Regions from separate parts of the Homo sapiens genome. Here all the other regions are reported to be linked to region 1. Evidence: microRNA targets listed by miRTarBase, many of them from high-throughput screens and not tested one by one. Region 1 holds a microRNA gene; each other region holds the end of a gene's coding sequence.
Evidence for each region. Region 1 holds the annotated microRNA hsa-miR-4524a-3p (UGAGACAGGCUUAUGCUGCUAU, at 2,323-2,344, shown strand). A microRNA usually pairs through its seed, bases 2 to 8, with sites in the 3' UTR of a target mRNA and lowers its output. Matches are read on the target gene's strand: a 7mer-m8 pairs with bases 2 to 8, a 7mer-A1 pairs with bases 2 to 7 and ends in A, and an 8mer does both.

Region 1 (5,204 bases):
CGTTCTACATAAACTAAATATGCTATAAAAAATGTAATCGCTTTGTGCCAGTTTTGGGAAATTACTTTGTCAGCTACTACGTTACATACCTCACATATTTACTACATGAACTAGTGGTAAGATTTAAACAATAAACCTTCTAATAGATTAATGAACATTTTCCTAAACATGAAGTACATAAATATAAAGATTGCTTTAGGAAGTGGGGAAATGCTTCTTTGGCAGGGTAAGGATGAATATTTAATGAACTCCATGCTTATCTCCTATCCAGAAGGCCAGCATTCCTTTGCTGCTGCTGCTGCTTTTTTTTTTTTTTTTGAGACAGAGTCTCGCTCTGTCACCCAGGCTGGAGTGCAGTGGTGTGATCGCAGCTCACTACAACCTCTGCCTTCTGAGTTTAAGTGATTCTTCTGCCTCAGCCTTCCAAGTAGCTGGGATTACAGATGTGTGCCACCACACCTGGCTAATTTTTGTATTTTTTAGTAAACATAGGGTTTTGCTATGTTGGCCAGGCTAGTCTCAAACTCCTAACCTCAAGTGATCTGCCCGCCTTGGCCTCCCAAAGTGCTAGAATTACAGGTGTGAGCCACCATGCCCAATCTTCCTTTGCTTCTTCATCATAAACTGACAGCATCTCCTTGTCAGGGAGACTTTTAAACTCTACTAAATGAAATTTCCCCATCAGCAAAATGGAGACAAAATTATCTAAAATTAGTAATACAAATAAAAATTCATATTGATTGTATGCTGACTCTGTGCTAGAGCTTAATGTACATGAATAGAGTGTCATTTAAGCCCTATAACAACCCATTTAGTATTTCCTTTTCATAGATGAGGAAGGTAAAGCTCAGAAAGTTTAGTTCACTTGAAGATGGACACACAACAAGCATGTGGCACTGTTAGGATCTTTTATACATAAACCTTGCCTTTGTTCTTTAAGAATTTAGCATTAACATTATTTATTTGTTTCTGTTTTAAGGATTATAGATTTTCAGTTGTGTGTAATACCAAGAGATTGCACTGTTTTCCAATTCTTATGAATATTATCAGCAATGGGCTACTTCAAATGTTTAATCACACACAACATATTCGAATTGAGTCAAGCCCATTTCCTCTTGTAAGTATTGGATTTACTGAGTCTAAACAATTAAGAATTGGACAAATAGCCTATGTTTTCTCTCTTTAGCTTTTAAATATCCATAAGTGATTGTTAAGCCTGAAAATTATTATTTTATCCTAATATTTTCAATGGGTTATAGCAAACAAAACAGGATTTTTTTTTCCTGCCAAGTTATCAGATAATTATCGTGAGGGAATACTTTTCAATATTTTGTCAGTCTTCTAGGCAATGTTTTGAAAAGTTGTACATACTTGATTGTGGAAGTGTATGAGAAAGAGAAACAGAAAAAAGAAAACACTGACTTGGAAATCAGGAGAACTTGTAACCCTGGTTACATATAAATCTATTATAATTAGTTAGTGGACCCTCCATTGACTAAATGTGTAGTAGACAGACTAATATGAAGGAGAATCTGCCAGTTCTGGGGCTATCTGTTGATTTATTTATTCACCTACTCATAGTTGCTCTATGTTGTGAGGGAGCCTAATACACACAGGCTGCATTGGATTCTGTGTCAGTTGGCTATAGTCTGGCTTCAGACAGTTTGGACACTAGAAAGCAGTGGTGGGAGACAGAAGAGCAGAGGACCCCCTACATTGGGCTCCAGTCACATCACCTCCTTCTGCTGTTCCTGAAGCCCAGAAGCAACAATAGCTTGCTTCTCACTTCACCATCTTTGTGGGATGCTCATCACCCACCTAACCATGTCATAAGGAATTGCACTCTAAGAACTTAACGTAGTCATGGTTTTCTGGTTAGACCCTGCCTGATACCAACAGGGGTGTCTCAAAGCTGACTCCAACTGTTTCACACCAGAAGTCTGAAACATCAAGAAGCAGGATTAGAAATGAAGCCATCCAAAGGGAAGTCCATTTTGTGACAAAAGTGTGAAGCTCAGTTTTGGCTTCACTGAATCAGTGGTGCTGGGAGTATATGCAAGCACAGGTTTTCTGTAAGCCATGGGAACAATGGGGATGAAATATACAGTACTTGAGATGTTCGTGACAGACACATACCTCCGTGAGTTGAGTATGACCGACTGATCACGTAAACAGGTCTGCTGCACAGGATGACTCGAGGGAAGGGGTGTCTGAAGGGAATTCTCCAGAAAGTGGAACCAGAGGAGTAGCAGAAAGAGACAGTGATTACCCTTCCTCTTTGGAACGATAGCAGCATGAACCTGTCTCACTGCAGAATTATTTTGAGACAGGCTTATGCTGCTATCCTTCAAAAGAACACATCCACCCAGCTACTGAGGTTTCCATCTCTGGGTTTGCTCAGAAAGACATGCTGCTCAGGCCTGAATTATGTGTTCATCAAAGGTCCTAACTTCTGAATTATTAGCTTCCTAATGCCATTGTGTTTGCTCAGGATCAAAATGGACTGAAGCCCATAGCTACTCTATTAGAAACCTGTTCCCCACTCCCACTTCCCCATGGCACACACCTTTCCTCCCTCATTCCTATGATGAAAAACAGAATTTATAGACATAGCCCTCAAAGTCTTAAATAAAGTTAAATAATTGTGGAATTATTTTGAGACAGGCTCATGCTGTTATCCTGTAATTATATCCATGAGGTGGTCCTAGATGCTGCTAGAGTGTCCACTTGGCCTAGCCTCAAGTGGATGCTGATTTGGGGGTAGTGATTTAAAGTTCCTTTCCCTGAAGTTAAGACAAGCAGCAACAAGTTTTCTTCTTGGTTCTGTGCTTCAGAACACATCCACCCAGCTACTGAGGTTTCCATCTCTGGGTTTGCTCAGAAAGACGTGCTACTCAGGCCTGAATTATATGTTCATCAGAGGTCCTAACTTCTGAATTATTGTTTTTTTGTTGTGGTAATAATACATGATATAAAATTGACCATTTTAGCTGTTTGCAAGTGTACAGTTGAGTAGTATTAAGTATATTCACATTGTTGTGAAATGCATCTCCAGAACTTTGCCGTCTTGCGGAATTGAAACTCGATGCCAATTAGCTTTCCCCCTCCCCCATCCCCTGGAAATAACCATCCTATTATGTTTCTATGAATATTACTAGTTTAGAAACCTTATATAAGTGGAATATTTGTCTTTTTGTAACTGGTTTATTTCACTTAGCATATTTTCCAGGTTCGTCTATGTTGTAGCATGTGACAGGATTTCCTTCTTTTTTTTTTTTTTTTTTTTTTGAGACCGAGTTTTGTTCTTGTTGCTCAGGCTGCAGTGCAATGGGGCGATCTCTGCTCACTGCAACCTCTGCCTCCCAGATTCAAGCGATTCTCCTGCCTCAGCCTCCCAAGTTGCTGGGATTACAGACATTTACCACCACACCTGGCTGATTTTGTATTTTTAGTAGAGATGGGGTTTCACCATGTTGGTCAGGCTGGTTCAGACTCCTGACCTCAAGTGATCCTTTTTAAGGTTGAATAGTATCCATTGTTTGTATATACATACACATTTTGTTAATCCATTAATTTGGACTTTTGGGTTGCTTCCACTTGTGAGTATTGTTGGTATGAATATGAATGTGAGGGTATCTCTTCGAGAGCTTGCTTTCAATTCTTTTGGAAATATCCCCAGAAGTAGGTCCTAAATGACTTTTGACTTCTCTTTGTTCTTTGAGTTGAAGATCAGAGTCACTTTCCCTCCCACCTTCGTGCCTAGATGGTAATGAGCTACACCTTTACTTTGATTTTTCAACATTTCAAAAAGTGCATTTTTGTGGCTATAATTATTTGTTTCATTTAACAAATATTCACTAGTTTAAGCTACCCTTTATATTTTCAGAGCCACATAGGACTCTGGACTGGGTTGCCGGATGGTTCCTTTTTCTTATTTTTGGTTCTATGTAGCATTTCTCCTTATATCACCATGGGCAGCATCAGTGATTACAAGGTAAGAAAAAGCAGGGAAAAGAAGAAATTTCAGGAATTTCAATATCTGTATTTTGAATGCTATGTGTTCAAAATGTTTTCTTCTGACAAAAACATTTGAATGTATGTTTAATTTAGATATTGTAGCTAAACCTTATTCTTGGCAAGTCAGATAATTTACTTCTAAAAACTCAAAATGCTTTTTATTCCAAAGTCACCTGAAAAGTACAGTGATTTTTCAGAGACTCCAATTAGTCTAAACCTTCAAAGGGAAATATTATAAATCTTTTGACCACATTATTTCCCAGCCACAAGAAGGAAATCATTGATGTTGAAATCAAAGGCCAAATTTAAGACTTGAATTCCTTTTCCACTCTGGAAATTGCAATTTTATGTTATATTTGTATTCGATTATGCCCATTATTCAGACAAAGCAGTTAAATCTATCAACGTTCACCATCCTGAGCCAGAAACTCTCCAAGATGTTTAGGTAAAGGTAAATGTATTATGTCCTCCAGGTCACAAAATAATACTTTTTTTTTTTTTTTTTTGAGATGGAGTCTCACTCTGTTGCCCAGGCTGGAGTGCAATGGTGCAAAATCGGTTCACTGCAAACTCCGCCTCCCGGGTTCAAGCAGTTCTTCTGCCTCAGCCTCCTGAGTAGATGGGATTACAGGCTTGCACCACCATGCCCAACTACTTTTTGTGTTTTTAGTCAAAATGGGCTTTCACCATGTTAGCCAGGATGGCCTCAATCCCCTGACCTTGTGATCCACCCGCCTTGGCCTCCCAAAGTGCTGGGATTACAGGCGTGAGCCACCATGCTGGCCAATACTTATTTTTATAGAGTTTAATGCCTTGAACATTATGAGGTCCACTTTTCATTATTCATGAGCTAAAGTTGTGTTATGAGTCAGGCCTATCACAGTATACATTTTATTTTTGATAGACACCTTGTAAACCATGGAACTGGCTCTATAAGCCTCATGTTACTAAGCAGTATATGCATAATTTTTTTTAATATTAGAAGATTAGATTATATTTATCTTAAAAATTCTTCCAATGTGTTTGTGTTTATTTTAGATTTGCATTTTAATTGAATCTATATACATTTCTTTCTTTCTTTTTTTTTTTAATCAGAAAAATGCTAAGTCCCAGCTATGGATTTCAGGCCTCTACACTTCTGCTTACTGGTGTGGGCAGGCACTAGTGGACGTCAGCTTCTTCATTTT
Region 2 (5,000 bases), not on the chromosome of region 1:
AAAAAAAAAAACATGGATTTTAGTCCAGATTTACTACTGGATTATTGCCCTCATCTTAAACTAGACTTCTTTTTTTTTTTTTTTAGATGGAGTTTTGCTCTTGTTGCCCAGGCTGGAGTGCAATGGCGTGATCTTGGCTCACTACAACCTCTGCCTCCCGGGTTCAAGCGATTCTCCTGCCTCAGCCTCCTGAGTAGCTAAGATTACAGGAATGTGCCACCATGCCCGGCTAATTTTGTATTTTTATTGGAGACAGGGTTTCTCCATGTTGGTCAGGCTGATCTCGAACTCCCGACCTCAGGTGATCCGCCCACCTCAGCCTCCCCAAAGCGCTGGGATTACAGGCGTGAGCCACCGCACCCGGCCTTAAACTAGATTTTTAATCTCTTTGGACATCAGTTGTCTCACCTGTAAAAAATTAGGGAATGCGACTAGATGATATTCTAATGCTTGAATTAAGTGTTTCTGGGAAATATACTAAAATTGCCTCAACTATGTATGGCCTTTAAAAAGACATCCATTTGTTCCTGTGCTTTATTTCAGGAAGCTGTATTAGTTACTAATTACCCAGTAATGGTATAGGGGCAAAGGAGCCAGATTTCCTACAGAAAATTATATACCAGGCTGGGCGTTGTGGCTCACGCCTGTAATCCTAGCACTTTGTGAGGCCGAGGCGGGCAGACTGCCTGAGCTCAGGAGTTTGAGACTAGCCTGGGCCACATGGTGAACCCCTGACTCTACTAAAATACAAAAAAAATTGGCCAGGTGTTGTGGCGCATGCCTGTAGTCCTAGCTACTCGGGAGGCGGAGGTTGCAGTGAGCTGAGGTCATACCATTGCACTCCAACCTGGGCGACAGAGCGAGACTCAACCTAAAAATAAATAAATAAATACATAAAATCTATAACTATTTAACTCAGTCTGGCTTTAAACAATCTGGAGTTAATGTCTCCTATGCACGTTCAATTAATTTAATTACAGTGGTTATCATTTTAGGGGAATTTAACACTTGGAATACTCCTATTTAACTAATCATTAATGCCAGTAATTAATATACAGTTTAGAAAAATGGAGATCCTAGCAAAAACCACAGGCTAAAAGGAAGACATCAAGTATCCTTTCAACTTGAGGATTCCCTACTATATGTATATGTGGCTGAAAAAGGGACATTCACTCTCCGTGCTCACATTAGGGATAATACTGAGGAGAACAGGAATCCTAGATGTACCAAGATGTTCTTTATACTTAACTGTAGTCAGTTGATGTCTTAGGCTTTGAATAGTTCACCAAGTTCTCCACACCTTTTCAAAGCACACAAGAGAGGAAAGTCTGATGCCTATTTTGCATCAGACTTGGAAGTAGAGAGCAACATCTGTCCCTTGATTAACATCCAAATAAGTAATGGCTTTACTGTGGCATAGAAAGACTAGAGTAGGCCGGCAGCTTTTTCTGAGGAATTTCTGCTTCCCTTTGAAACAAGACCTTCATTTCCAATAAATAAATCACTATTAGGTCTTGTGTACATTTAATTTTTATGCATTTCATAAATAAACCTCCTGCATAATTACTAACTCCATTTCTAACTGGAAATTTTAAATGTTTGTATCAGTGAGGTTTAATTTTTCCTAAGGCAATTATAAACATGGCTTTTTGCATGACCTAAGTAACTGGCTTAAATTGTCATAACTGGTATTAGAAATGAATCCATCTTTTTTATACTCTAATCTTTTTTTTGTTTTGAGACAGACTCTTGCTCTGTCGCCCAGGCTGGAGTGCAGTGGCGTATGATCTCAGCTCACTGCAACCTCCGTCTTCTGGGTTCAAGAAATTGTCCTGCCTCAGCCTCTTGAGTAGCTGGAACTACAGGCACATACCACCATGCCCGGCTAATTTTTGTACTTTTAGTAGATACAGGGTTTCACCATGTTGGCCAGGCTGGTCTTGAACTCCTGACCTCCAGTGATCCACATGCCTTGGCCTCCCAAAGTTCTGGGATTACAGGCATAAGCCACTGCACCCGGCCTACTCTAGTCTTTCTATGCCACAATAAAACCATTACTTATTTGGATGTTAATCAGTGGACATATGTTGCTCTCTACTTCTCAATCATCTTAAATAAAAAAAAAAAACACTTCAAACTTGCCATGTGGCTGGGCGTGGTGGCTCACACCTGTAATCCCAGCACTTTGGAAGGCTGAGGCGGGTGGATCACCTGAGGTTAGGAGTTCAGGACCAGCCTGGCCAACATGGTGAAACCCCATCTCTACTAAAAAAATACAAAAATCAGCCAGGCGTGGTTGGCGGGCGCCTGTAATCCCAGCTACTTGGGAGGCTGAGACAGGAGAATTGCTGGGAGGTGGAGGTTGCAGTGAGCTGAGATTGCGCCATTGCACTCCAGCCTGGGTGACGAGAGCGAAACTCTTGTCTTCAAAAAAAAAAAACTTGCCATATAAGTATGTGATCCATCCCCTATCAGAGCAGAAAGGGAAGAGAGAAAGAATCCTTTCTGATTATGATCACAGTTTCCTACTTTATCAAATACACCTATGGAGAATTACTCTCCTATTAACAAGTTAACTTACCTGGTCCTGAGGACCATTTATGTTTCCGGAACAGAATACCAATGCTACAGAATGTTGAGTCCCCCTACTGACCTACTTCCCTCCTTGAAATGGACTTCTATGCACTAGTTTGGGCTTATAGGTTATACTGCTGCTGCTGCATAGGTACATGGTATAAGAATCATGTTTTTTTTATCTTTGAGAAAATGAGTTAAAGGCTTGCTTCTTCACTTAACTGCAACACAGTTTACAGATTCAGATTTCACATTTTGCTAAGTATAAATGACATATCTTAAGACTAATGAAAACTTTCATGTTTTACTTGTATTTATTATGGTAACTTTTCTTTTCATAGCCATGTTCACTGCCCACTTCCCATGAGATTTCTCCAGTGCCCGCCAGACCTGACTGGAAAAAGTCATTATCTTGATGAAGCAGATGTATTTTACCTAAATCCCTTAAACTGGTTACATAGAGAGTTTCATGATGATGCATCATTGCCTACTCACTTGATCACCTTCAGCATTTTGGAAGAGGTAAGTAAACATGAAAAAGAGGAAAACTCAGTATTTTAATTTTACCCCAGGTTTAGGAAACCCTCAGGTAAATAGATAATATAACCTTTTTATGGTCTGTTTCAACCCACATTTCATAATTAGTCTTTTCTCCAGTCAAAATTAGCCCCAGTTCTGTAACTATCAAAGTATTTTACTTCCTATAAGTTAATTCTTTTATTAAGCAAAAAGTTGTAGACAGCAATTAGAATAGGCAATTCTAAAATTGACTGAAACAGTACTCAGCAAAATGTAGCCTTTATTTACTTAAACATTTATTTGCTTCTAGGAAATAAGCGCTTTCCTAATTTCAAGCAATTATAAAAGAACTGCTGTTTTCTTCCACACTCACTTGCCAGAGGGTCGAATTGGAAGTCACATATATGTCTATGAACGGAAGTTAAAAGGGAAATTCAACATGAAGATGAAATTCTGAACTTTCCTAGATAAATTAACATTGCTGGGTGGAAATATTCAGATGCTGCTTAAATACTTCGGTAAACACTGGGTAAGATTCATGGAACTTAGAAAAAAGCTGTATGAACTGCTTTACCAAATATCACTACTGAGGAAATGTATAAAATACCACATAGTATAAAATTACATGTTAATACAATGCCAGATTTTAAATAAAGACCTTTAGTTTTCCTCATGGTGTAGTTTTATTGTTTCTTCCACGATATTCAGATGTGCAAAAAATTTCACAAGAAAACAAGTCAGCAAGCTCTTAAGAGGGCAGCAAATTCTTCACAAGTCAGAGGGCTCTTGAACCCACAAAAAGACAAGAAGTGAGTGTAAGATTATAAAATGTTAATGATGAAATTCCAGAACAATGTACTTTTCTCAAGCTCTGCTGCAAATTTAACACAAACATCAGTGTTAATTACACTTTGTCATGTATGACTGAGCTTGCTTTAAGCTCTTACACTGAAAGGAAGTCTCATTTCATGCACAAAATCTGTTGCATGCCTGGCTTCCTTAATAAAACTACAGTTGAACATTTCCAGTGTCAAAAAAAATTCAACGAAGCTAAACTACAGGAAAATGCAGGTTAGTAGACTTTTAACTAATGCTTCTGAGGAATAATATAAAGTTATCAAACTGATACTTAGAAACAAAAGAAAAGACATTGTCATCTTGGTAATTTCATTAGTTTCAATACCAAACATTATACAAAGCATAAATTTTTCTCTTACAGTTGTCTAATTTAACTCAATTGTGAATCAGTATTGAGGATCAAAAGGTAATTGCCCCAATTCTATTTCAAGATTTGCCATTTGTCTTCCATTAGTGCGACCATATTTATGCCATTTACCTTCCCTTTTATAAGGCTGTGGCTGAAGGTGCTTCTGCTCTTGTTTTCGATGCCTGGAGTTTTCAATATTTACCATACGTTGCTTTTTATCAGGTCGACTGAAAGCAGTAAACACATTTTTCATCTATGTTAGAGTTCAATGTATTTAAATTTAAAACAATTTTAAATGTTTTCTCCATTAATCTATGATCTGAACACTGATAAAAGATATTAAATATCTGAATTACAATCCTAGTATATCCATATAAAAATAAAGGAGTCTGTATTAGTTTTTTTGTCCTATAGAAAGAAAAAATAGACAATAACTCTACTGGCAAAAAAGGGAAACACTCAAAAGATAACAAAGAAAAGAAATGTGACAATAAAATAATGAGATGTGTTTCCATTATTTTTCCTCCTTTCCTATAAAAATCAGTCCCTCCCCGCTGGCTTTATCACTCAGCAGAAATACATACACATCTCTCACAAACAAAGCAAAACAAAAGTCTCAACTTTTTCTTACAGCAAAAGCTCACAACACCTACACCGCTTTCCTTAATGTCTATGATCAGGCTTCCGTCACTACTTCACT
Region 3 (5,204 bases), not on the chromosome of region 1:
GGATACAGGATTTCTTTTAAAATACTTGTTCTGAAAGAGATGGTACCCTCCCCCACCTCCGCCCAAGAGGCAGTTCTGGAAATGTGAGCATGTTAGGGGTGCCACTGATGGGCGGCCACTACTGAGATTTAACCTGTTGGAGCATGCGTGATACACAAGCCCTGCAGCTTACAGCCCTCACAACAAAGAGCTGACTCATCAACACAACTTTCAATTGCCCCGCCCAATATTCATATAGATGGGAACTCAGTTTACAATAACAAATCTATGATCTCATTTCATTTTATATATAAACACACAGAATTTTCAGCCCAGTTTTAATATGCTTTGGATTTTTCAAGAATGCAATGAGAGAATTCTATAAATGGAAGGAAGCCTATATACTGAGTGATTATGAGCAAGAAAGCCAGAGCCAGGCTGCTTTCATTTTAATCCCAGCTCTGCCATTATTAGCACATAACCAGGATGACTAGCACATAACCTGGGTAACTCCCTCATATGCAAAACGGGACTAACAGCAGTACTCACCTCATAGATTTATTAGAAAGGTATTAGAACAATGCCAGGCACACAGCAAGCACTATATGAGTGAAGCCATTACAGACTAGGTATGCCTAGAACTTTATCTAAAGAATTGGCCACATTTTAGAAAATCATACTGCTGACATCGACCCCTTTCCTGGTATTGAACTGCCAATGCAGCAGGTCTGAATTGGTAACTACCACATTCATGGTGATTTTTCACATATTTATATTTATACACACACATACAAAGTATGTGCCCTGCTTAGTAGTTTAATTACATCTTGTAATATAACCATGCTAGAATATGTACATATGAAAATAATTATTTCATTATAAAATATCTTATCTGTTTCAGTTAGAACGTCACTGATGGGTATGTTTTAGAGGCTAGTTATATTACCTGCTAGTTTCATTTCAGAATAGTAAATGGAGTGATGTTTTTATGAGTGAAGGTAAGCTTCATCATCCATGATTTTCATTTGAAGATTGAAAAGTGATGCTATAAAATATTATAATAGGGGTAGGTGTTGAGTTGTGTCTGGGAGAGTTTTAACAATCACTCTTGTAAAGTATCCTGTCAAGGAGTTCAAGATCAGCCTGGCCAACATGGTGAAACTCCATCTCTACTAAAAATACAAAAATTAGCCAGGTGTGGTGGCGGGCACCTGTAATCCCAGCTACTTGGGAGGCTGAGGCAGGAGAATTGCCTGAACCTGGGAGGCAGAGGCTGCAGTGAGTTGAGATTGTACCACTGCACTCTAGCCTGGGTGACAGAGTGAGAATCTGTCTCAGAAAAAAAAAAAAATTTTTTTTAAAGAAATAAAAATAAAGAATCCTGTCAAAAAGCATCATCAAGCAACTTCATATGTGAACACACGTCCACAATTAAACCTGGATTACTACTGAGGCAAGCAGTTTCCATTAATTTCTAAGAAATCCATATTAAACTATTATTTATGTATGTCCATAGTAGAGGTTTACAAAGGTTTTTTTTTTTTAGCAGCAATATATTTTTCAAACACAATTCAGGAGAAAACCTCAAATAAAAAGAAAGATGAAGCTGTGGAGGGTGACTGCAAGTAGAGGAGCCAGGAACTTCTCTCGCGGGTCCTGGGACTCCAGGGAACAAAGGCTGAAAAGCACCAATCTGGTTGGCCACTGCCTATAATGAAGACTGACTGCCGAATATTCACTTAAAGGATGGCTGTTCAATTCACAAGTGGCATTTTCCCCACAGAAAAAGAGCTCACCAGCCAGCTAAGGCCTCCAGAGTGATTTAACTCATCATCCAGTGGAACTACAGCTCTTAGAGTTCTCCCCACAATCTGGGGAGTAAGAGGAGATGTTGCCACCCACTTCCTGGGCATAAAGCCAGCTCAAGACAAGAGTAAAACAGGCAGGGCTGGCTCGCCCCTCGTACACAGCTCCCTCCTCATCACCAGTGCCCTACACGAGACCTCCCCAGCCCACACCCCACCCTCCTAGTGTGTTGAACACCCTGTGGTCACACACTGCAAGCCTCTTCTCTCCATCTGCCAAACACCCTTGGGTCTCCATGTCTCCATGAAATACCAGATCTTTTTCTTTTTGTTTTTTTTTTGAGACAGAGTCTCCTTCTGTCACCCAGGCTGGAGTGCAGTGGCCTGATCTTGGCTCACTACAACCTCCGCCTCCAGGGTTCAAGTGATTCTCCTGCCTCAGCCTCCCGAGTAGCTGGGACTACAGGTGCCCACCACCATGCGAAGCTGATTTTTAGTAGAGACAGGGTTTCACCATGTTGGCCAGGCTGGTCTTGAACTCCTGACCCCAGGTAATCCACCCACCTTGGCCCCCCAAAGTTCTGGAATTACAGGCATGAGCCACTGCGCCAGGCCGAAATACCAGATCTTCATGGCAGTTGTCTTAGAGGTAGAGAAGAAAACAGCCAGACTGAGCCGGGTGTGGTGGCTCATGCCTGTAATCCCAGCACTTTGGGAGGCTGAGGCCGGCAGATCAGTTGAGGTTGGGAGTTTGAGACCAGCCTGGCCAACGTAGTGAAACCCCGTCTCCACTAAAAATACAAAAATTAGCCAGGCATGGTGGCGGGCACCTATAATCCCAGCTACATGGGAGGCTGAGGCAGGAGAATCGCTTGAACCTGGAAGGTGGAGGTTGCAGTGAGCTGAGATTGCGCCACTGCACTCCAGCCTGGGTGACAGATTGAGACTCCATCTCAAAAACAAACAAACAAACAAAAAAAACCAGCCTGACTGAATTCAGTCACAGTAATTATACATGAGTGGTTGCTAGTTCCTTTAACCACACCAGAAGCATTTTAAAGGGAAGATGTTTCCTAACTCCAGTGATTTTCATGGGCTGAATTCCAGGCAGTTCAGCAAACTCAACAATTCCGGTGGTATGAGAAAGGGCATTTTGGAGTAGGAGATTTCGGCTCTGCCTAGGAAGATACCTCAGAAAATTCCCCTCGTGCAATTTCACTTTGCATATGCTTCTCCTGTTCTTCCATTTCTAATCCATAAAATCCCAAAATGCTTGGGAGGGTTTATTTTGATTTTTTTTAACAATACTGCCCTGCTGGCAACAGCCACGATAGTCACTTGCTCATCTGAAAATGCCTTGCACTTTCTTTTTCACTAGCTTCGTGTATGACGCAAAACAGAAATATTTCAATTACAGGTGACTAAGAGTAAGAAAAATATACAACTATATTTAAAATACTTAAATTAACAAGATAGTACTTTTCCATTCTAACAAAATATCATACATTCAGTTTAAACAAGAGTTAATATCCAGACACACGTTTTCAAAATACCTGATGCTAGTTGAAAATTAGTGACCATGAGGCTTTCCAAGATATTTCTAATTAGCAAACTGTGTACAATTTTGAAGAAGTGTACACACCGTGCTGGAAGACAGACACTGAACAGGTCAAAATGCAAACTCATGTATCTTTCATCAACCTAAATCTTGTTGCTTCACTTTTCTAAATGATACTTTGGCTGTCAGCGAATCTTATAGCTTCTTTTCCCTTAAAGACAATAATATATAACAACACCACCCCACACAAATAACCATAAACTTCTTTGTGTGAAATAAGCCCTATCAAAATGTGTTCATGTATTTCTGTACCAACTGATCTATACTGAGACTGTCATGAAAAAGGTATCAAACAAGTGTAACAGGCCTACACTTAAACCTCTGCCTCAAAGGAGAAATCAGATACTTGCCACGTTATTGCAAAGTCAAAGCTGCTACACTTAAAATATGGTAGATAGTTTAGAAAAATCAAATCAAAAATGTTTTCTCACTGGCTTTTTCAGATAAAGAAGTTGGACCACAAACCAACACATCTGTGTGAAAACAGCCACCAATTTGAGTCCCCCCAGCCCCTCAAAAAGGAACAATGCCACCAGTCCCTCACAATGACCATAACGTCTCTGGCCAGGACTGCGATTTCTAGCGCGTGTCTTCACATTCTATCTCTGGGGAAGCAAGACAAACAGGCTCTACCCATTTCCCTCCTTTTGTCTCCACAAGCCAGCACCTAAGATCCTCTGAATTTGTTCCCATCCAATCCTGCAAACTTCCAAGAAGGGCAGTAGATAACTTTTCAAAAGAAAAAGAAATTGCATAAGGTCCCTACATAATACTGAGGCTGAAACGAGAAGAGGCTGTCCACTGTAAAAGCAAGGCACTTGGGGCAGGAGCCAGGCAGGTGGCCTGAGCAGGGTCCCTCTCAGTGAGTCAACAGTTTGAGGCGCGTAAACCAGCTGACCAGGAGGGACGGTTCTGTGGACGAGGACTTCGTAGCTGAGGAGCCAGATTTCTTTTTGGTCCCTTCCTCCTGGAATGGAATCGTGGCGCTGCTGTGGAGATCTGAGTTGATGTAGCACCTGCTTCCTCGGATGTAGTCCGCACCCCGGACCAGATGCCGCTCGGTCGTGGGTCTGGAGAACCGGTATGGGGGAGAGGAGCTCTCTTCAATGATCGGAGGAATCCGCTCGTTACTGAAATACCGGCAAAGGGCATCCTCCCCTGTTTCCAGACAAAGTCCATTAAGTCACAATCCCAGCCGGGCGTGGTGGCTCACACCTGTAATCTCCGCACTTTGGGAGGTCGAGGTGGGTGGATCACGAGGTCAAGAGATCTAGACCATCCTGGCCAACATGGTGAAACCCCGTCTCTACTGAAAATACAAAAATTAGCTGGCGTGGTGGCGGGCGCCTGTAGTCCCAGCTACTCAGAGAAACGTTTGAACCCGAGAGGCGGAGGTTGCAGTGAGCCAAGATCGCGCCACTGCACTCCAGGCTGTTGACAGAGCGAGACTCTGTCCCCTCCAGGAAAAAAAAAAAAAAATCACAATCCCCTACACAGTGCTCTTTGGAGGGCCCTCGGCCTGCCCAGACTTCTGCCACCACCCTGAATGTGGGCACCATACCTTTACTGCTCTCCTCCCTGGATTGGCCACAAGGTCCCACCTGTGGCTGGGCCCACCAATGGGTGCTCTGGAAGCAGAAATGGGAAGGGTCCCTCATACTTTAGGCTGCTTTAGCGCCTGAGAGGTAGCACACGGGTCTCCTTTAGTGGGTGGGGACCATAGAGTGTAGTGTCCCCGCGATGGCTGAACAGAACTGTTTATGCATTGTTTAATGCAGGGCATTCAAGCTGGGCATTCAGGA
Region 4 (5,204 bases), not on the chromosome of region 1:
ATATACAAATTATATATGTGTAGGTACACCTGTGTGTGTATACATGTAGATATATAGATAACCATATCTATGTAACAACCACCCAGATCAAGATATGAAACATTTCTAAAGAGTGGTCCCTGGCTACACTTTCTGCTAAAAAATACCTATCCTTTCCCTAAGCTGAATTATTATTTTGACTTTTTCTTAACTATAGATTAGTTTTGCTTGTTTTTGAACTTCATATAAAGGGAGTCGTACAGTATGTACATTTCTGTGTCTAACTTCTATTGCTCAACATTCATGGGATGTATCCATGTTGTGGGTATTAGTAGTTCTTCCTTTTTATCGCTGAGTACTATTTCATTGTATGAATATACACAGTTTCTTCATGCATTCTTCTGTTGATGGACACTTAGATTGTTTCCATTTAGGCTATTATGAATAAGGCTACTGTGAACACCCCGAACAAGTCTTTTTATAGACATAATCATTCATTTCTCTTGGGTAAATTCCCCACAGTGGCAATGCTGGGTCATCCAGTGTGTCTGTGTCTCATTTCATTGAACGTTGGCAGTTCTTTCAAATATACATTGAGATTTCTCTAATTCTCTCTTCCCATCTTTCTCCTCTGCCACCACTCTAAACCACTCTTCTGCTTCTGTTACCAGACCTGTTTCCTGACTTGCGTTTTCCTCTCCACAGGACAAGAAGAGGTATTTACGCCTCCTGGAGATTCACAAAATAATGCGGACGCTACCGACTGCCAGATCTTTACACTCACCCCTCCACCTGCCCCGAGGAGTCCGGTCACAAGGGCCCAGCCCATCACAAAGACACCCAGGTGTCCCTTCCATTTTTTTCCACGAAGGCCCAGAATCCATTTTAGGTTTCCAAACAGACCTTTCGTCCCTTCAAGGTGTAACCACCGTTTTCCATTCCAGCCATTTTATTGGCCACACCGTTACCTTACTTATAGGTATTTCCCCAGAAGAAGACTCCAGAGAGGAAGCTCATCTGAGGAAAGCTGAGAGGGAAGAGAAACCCAAACATACTGAAGCAAAAAAAAGCCTATCCTTCAGAAAAAAGCAACAAAAAGATTTCTGTTTTATCTTTCGAAACTAAAACTATTGGATTTGAAGATTAAGTATCCTAAACATCACTGACTAGAAACTGTTCTCTTTGTCAGCAGTGAAGATATTGGATCATAGGTTATTGATGGTTGCAAAATTGGACAATAACCACGTTATTTTTATCCTCAACCTCTTATGGTCACAGGATATTTATGCAAATAAAATCTTTAAATGGGTGGCTCTAGTAATTCCTATCCATACTAAGATGCTGAGAGAATCCATCTCCTCCTCTAAATTAAACAGGATTTAAATAAATTGAGATCATTATAAACCACACGAAGAAACTGATGACACCGTTTTTATACTCATTGGAAAACATACAGAGCAAGGTGCATTGACAAAGTAAACTTTAAAAGAAATTATAAAGCTTAAAGCAATTAAAAAGTTATGAGGAGTCTGACTGTAGCTAATACTTTAAAGATATAAACTGACTTGTCTAACCCAAATAATAATAATTATTATTATTTTCTTGGAGACAGAATTTCACTCTTGTTACCCAGGCTGGAGTTTAGTGGTGCTGTCTCGGCTCACTGCAACCTCTGCCTCCCGGGTTCAAGCAATTCTCTTGCCTCAGCCTCCCAAGTAGCTGGGATTATAGGTGCTCGCTACCAAGCCTGGCCAATTTTTTGTATTTTTAGTAGAGATGGGGTTTCACCATGTTGGCCAGGCTGGTCTCGAACTCCTGACCTCAGGTGATCCACCCACCTCGGCCTCCCAGAGTGCTGGGATTACAGGCATGAGTCACTGCGCCCAGCCCCAAATAATTACTTTTAAACTATAGTATCTAAATTTACTTTAATGTTGACTTCAACTGATGCAAATTAATTTGATAATTTTCTCACTGTTTCCCGTTATCATTACATAGATGCTGGCTAAAATAATATACTTCCTCTCAAACTTTTAACGTAATTCCAGGTTCAAAATGCCTGATTAAACTGCTACAAGAATATTCTGGTACCTCTAGAACTCCACAGAGATAAGTTCACTCAACTCTTGGAACCTTGTATTCTCAGGGTGCAATATGAGAAACAAATCCCACAGATTGCATTGATTGGTTATTTGTTTTGGCCACTCTGTAAAACACATCTTCCTGTTTATGCCACTTATCTTGCCTGTAACATAAGAACTTTAGTTCTGCATATGTGGTCAGTGGTTTGCACTTTTTCCTCCCAAGATCTACATGCAAAAGTTGCTGTTGCTGCTGCTGCTACAAAAACAGAAAAAAAAAAATCAGGATGAAGACATGAAAGGACTTTGGGAATGGTTGCCCTAAAAAAGGAAAGAGAGATAAAATCATCATGCTATGTTTCTTTGCTTTATTAAAATGATCAAAAAAGAAAAAAACTATTTAATTCACATTCTAGAAAATATTCATTTTAAGAATAGATTTTTGCTTCAAATTTACAGGCTTCAATAAAAACCTACTTGAAAGTCTCTTCAGAAAAACAAAACAAAACTATATTTTGAAATAAACCCTACCTGCTCTCTTTTTTTTGGTTGATGGGGACATACCAGAAAAGGGCCAGCTTCAGGCAAACTTGAAGACAGATAAAGGTTTGTATTTGAAACCCACCTCCCCTTCTGACTCTCCTCCTTTATTCCGGCATGCTCACCACTCACCTAGGTACTCAGTGTCCTCATAGTGCCAGCAACTGCCAAAAACTAACCTACCTTTGACTGGGCTTTCTCTTCCCAAATGTTAGAACTTTTGCAATTCAAAATTTAATCGTTCTGAAATCTAGTCCTTGAAGGACTTGCTAAGTAATATGCCAGCCTCAGGTAAACTAAGACAAACTAATGATGGATGAACAGCTTCGATGCATTAATCACTGCATTAATTATAGAAGGCAGGCTACTCCTACAGTGTTTCAGAGTAAGGGCCTTTCAACATAGCTCTAGGTAAAATTGCATTATTCCTCACCCTGGAACATGTATAGAATATGAGAAGCAGCCCACACCTGCTATTAAAAGTATAGGCCTAGGAGTGCAAAAGGCTTATTTGGGGGAGGGAAGAATATGCTTTTGTGACTTAGAAAAATTTGCATCATTCCTTTGGATTCATAAATTCACTTTTTAAATACAGAGATTCCTAGCAGGTTTATTGAATTAGAAGGATAATGTGGAACCACTAATACCTCCATGTGAATTAGTTTCTCAAATTAGTTCCTTTCGACTAGCTGTTTTTGAAGCAATGGGAGTCTGTGGGATGGGTATAATAACTCTTCAATGCATTTTTTTTCTTTTGAGGCAGGAATTACAACAATAGTATTGTAAGTCTAAAGTTCTAATTATGCCCAAAACACATAACCTGAATCTAATCATCAAAAAAAAACTCAAATTAAGGAACATTTGCAAAACTGGCATCTTCAAAAATGTAGATGTCATGAAAGACAAAGATTAAAGGAGATTGAAGTGGATGACAATTCAGTGCAATATGTGATCTCCGATTAGATCCTGGAGGTCAGAAGGGGAGGGACAGGACATTTTGGCATAACTGGGACAACTGACAAATTTTAAATTTGGACCATGTATTGGGTAATAGTATTCTGTCAATGTTAAACTTCCTGAATTTCATAATTCTGTAAGAGAACATTCCTGTTCTTAAGGAAATAGATTTTGAAGCATTTAAGGGTAAATAAGTATGATCTCTGCAACTAAATCTCAAAAGATTCAGGAAAAATATGCATAGATATGCAGATATGTGCATATATATGATAGATAGATACATAGATAGATATATAGATAGGCAGACAGATGGGAAGTAATAAACCACATGTGGCAAATGTTTTTCCAGTTGATGTATTTGACTAAAGGGTATATGGGAGTTGTTTGTACTATTCTTGCAGCTCTTCTAGAGTTCGATATTATTTCAAGAACAATATTTAAAAATTATTTGAGGAGGTCTACTAGCTTGCTAGGGCTCCCATAACAAAGTGTCAGACTGGGTGGCTTAAACAACAGAAATGTATTTCTGGAGGCTAGAAGTCTAAGATCAAAGTGCCATCAGGGTTGGTTTTGATGTAAGGCAGGTGAGCCCCAAAGTGGGGCTTAGCCTGTGAGGGTTCTTGGCTTTGCCTAGGAAAGAATTCAAGGGCAAGCCAGAGGTAGAAGGAAACAGCTTTATTGAAGAGGCAGTGTTACAGCTTTGTGACTGCTCCTGCAGAGCAAGGCTACCCTGTAGGCAGAGAGTAGTACCCCAGGGCAGTTTTGCAGTCATATTTATACTCACTTGTAAGTCCATGCAGATTAAGGGGTGACTTATTCGGGAAGTTTGTAGGGAAGGGGTAGTAAATTTTGGGTCATTGGGTCAGTGCCATGGAAAGGGGCAGTAACTCCTGGGTGTTGCCATGACAATGGTAAATTGACACAGCACACTGGTGGGTGTGTCTGATTGAAGGGTATTGAAGGGTGCTTCCTCCTCACTTTCCACCCCTGTTTTAGCTAGTCCTCAATCTGGTCTGATGTCTAAGCCCCGCCTCTGGAGTCCATTCCTGCTTCCTACTTTGTTTCCTGTGAGGCCTCTCTCCCTGTCTTGCAGATGGCCACCCTCTTCCTCCTCTTCACATGGTCATTTCTCTGTGTACATGTGCTACTGGTGTCTCTCTTGTGTGACTAGATTTCTTCTTCTTATAAAGACACAAGTCAGATTGGATTAGGGCCCTTCCTAACAGCCTCATTTTAAATTAATCACCTCTTTGGTGAGGCCGAGGTGGGTGGATCATGAGGTCAGGAGATCGAGACCATCCTGGCTAACAAGGTGAAATCCCATCTCTATCAAAAATACAAAAAATTAGCCAGGCATGGTGGTGGGCACCTGTAGTCCCAGCTACTCAGGAGGCTGAGGCAGGAGAATGGCGTGATCCTGGGAGGCGGAGCTTGCAGTGAGCCGAGATTGCGCCACTGCACTCCAACCTGGGCGACAGAGCAAGACTCCATCAAAAAAAAAAAAAAAAAGTAATCACCTCTTTAAAGGCTCCATCTCCAAACAGTCACATGGTGAAGTATTGAGGAGGCTAAGCCTTCAACATGTGAATTTGGGGGAACACACTTCAGTCCATAACAAGAAGTATCCAATTTTCATAGCAGTAACTA

Region 2: the mRNA of CCPG1 is a reported target of hsa-miR-4524a-3p. The part of its 3' UTR that is shown has no 7-base or 8-base seed match.
Region 3: the mRNA of CNKSR3 is a reported target of hsa-miR-4524a-3p. Seed matches in the 3' UTR shown: 7mer-m8 at 2,284-2,290 and 8mer at 2,125-2,132.
Region 4: the mRNA of ODAPH is a reported target of hsa-miR-4524a-3p. The part of its 3' UTR that is shown has no 7-base or 8-base seed match.

Annotation. Positions count from the first base shown.
Region 1 is chr17:69,096,710-69,101,913 of GRCh38, reverse strand. MIR4524A (microRNA 4524a) reads left to right here and starts at 2,282; the gene lies at 2,282-2,350. ABCA6 (ATP binding cassette subfamily A member 6) reads left to right here. Exons shown (of 39, transcript NM_080284.3): 22 at 980-1,117; 23 at 3,887-3,994; 24 at 5,113-5,204. MIR4524B (microRNA 4524b) reads right to left here and starts at 2,372; the gene lies at 2,258-2,372.
Region 2 is chr15:55,351,883-55,356,882 of GRCh38, forward strand. CCPG1 (cell cycle progression 1) reads right to left here. Exons shown (of 9, transcript NM_001204450.2): 9 at 3,357-4,527. The coding sequence ends at 4,338. PIGB (phosphatidylinositol glycan anchor biosynthesis class B) reads left to right here. Exons shown (of 12, transcript NM_004855.5): 11 at 2,916-3,096; 12 at 3,404-3,766. The coding sequence ends at 3,550. It overlaps DNAAF4-CCPG1 (DNAAF4-CCPG1 readthrough (NMD candidate)), which reads right to left. Exons shown (of 16, transcript NR_037923.1): 16 at 3,341-4,527. Among named protein-coding and RNA genes, the nearest start is that of MIR628, 19 kb to the right of the region's middle. RefSeq lists an enhancer at 918-1,561.
Region 3 is chr6:154,402,093-154,407,296 of GRCh38, forward strand. It overlaps CNKSR3 (CNKSR family member 3), which reads right to left. Exons shown (of 13, transcript NM_173515.4): 13 at 1-4,560. The coding sequence ends at 4,262. Among named protein-coding and RNA genes, the nearest start is that of IPCEF1, 48 kb to the left of the region's middle.
Region 4 is chr4:75,563,430-75,568,633 of GRCh38, forward strand. ODAPH (odontogenesis associated phosphoprotein) reads left to right here. Exons shown (of 2, transcript NM_178497.5): 2 at 685-1,388. The coding sequence ends at 1,010. Among named protein-coding and RNA genes, the nearest start is that of ODAPH, 10 kb to the left of the region's middle.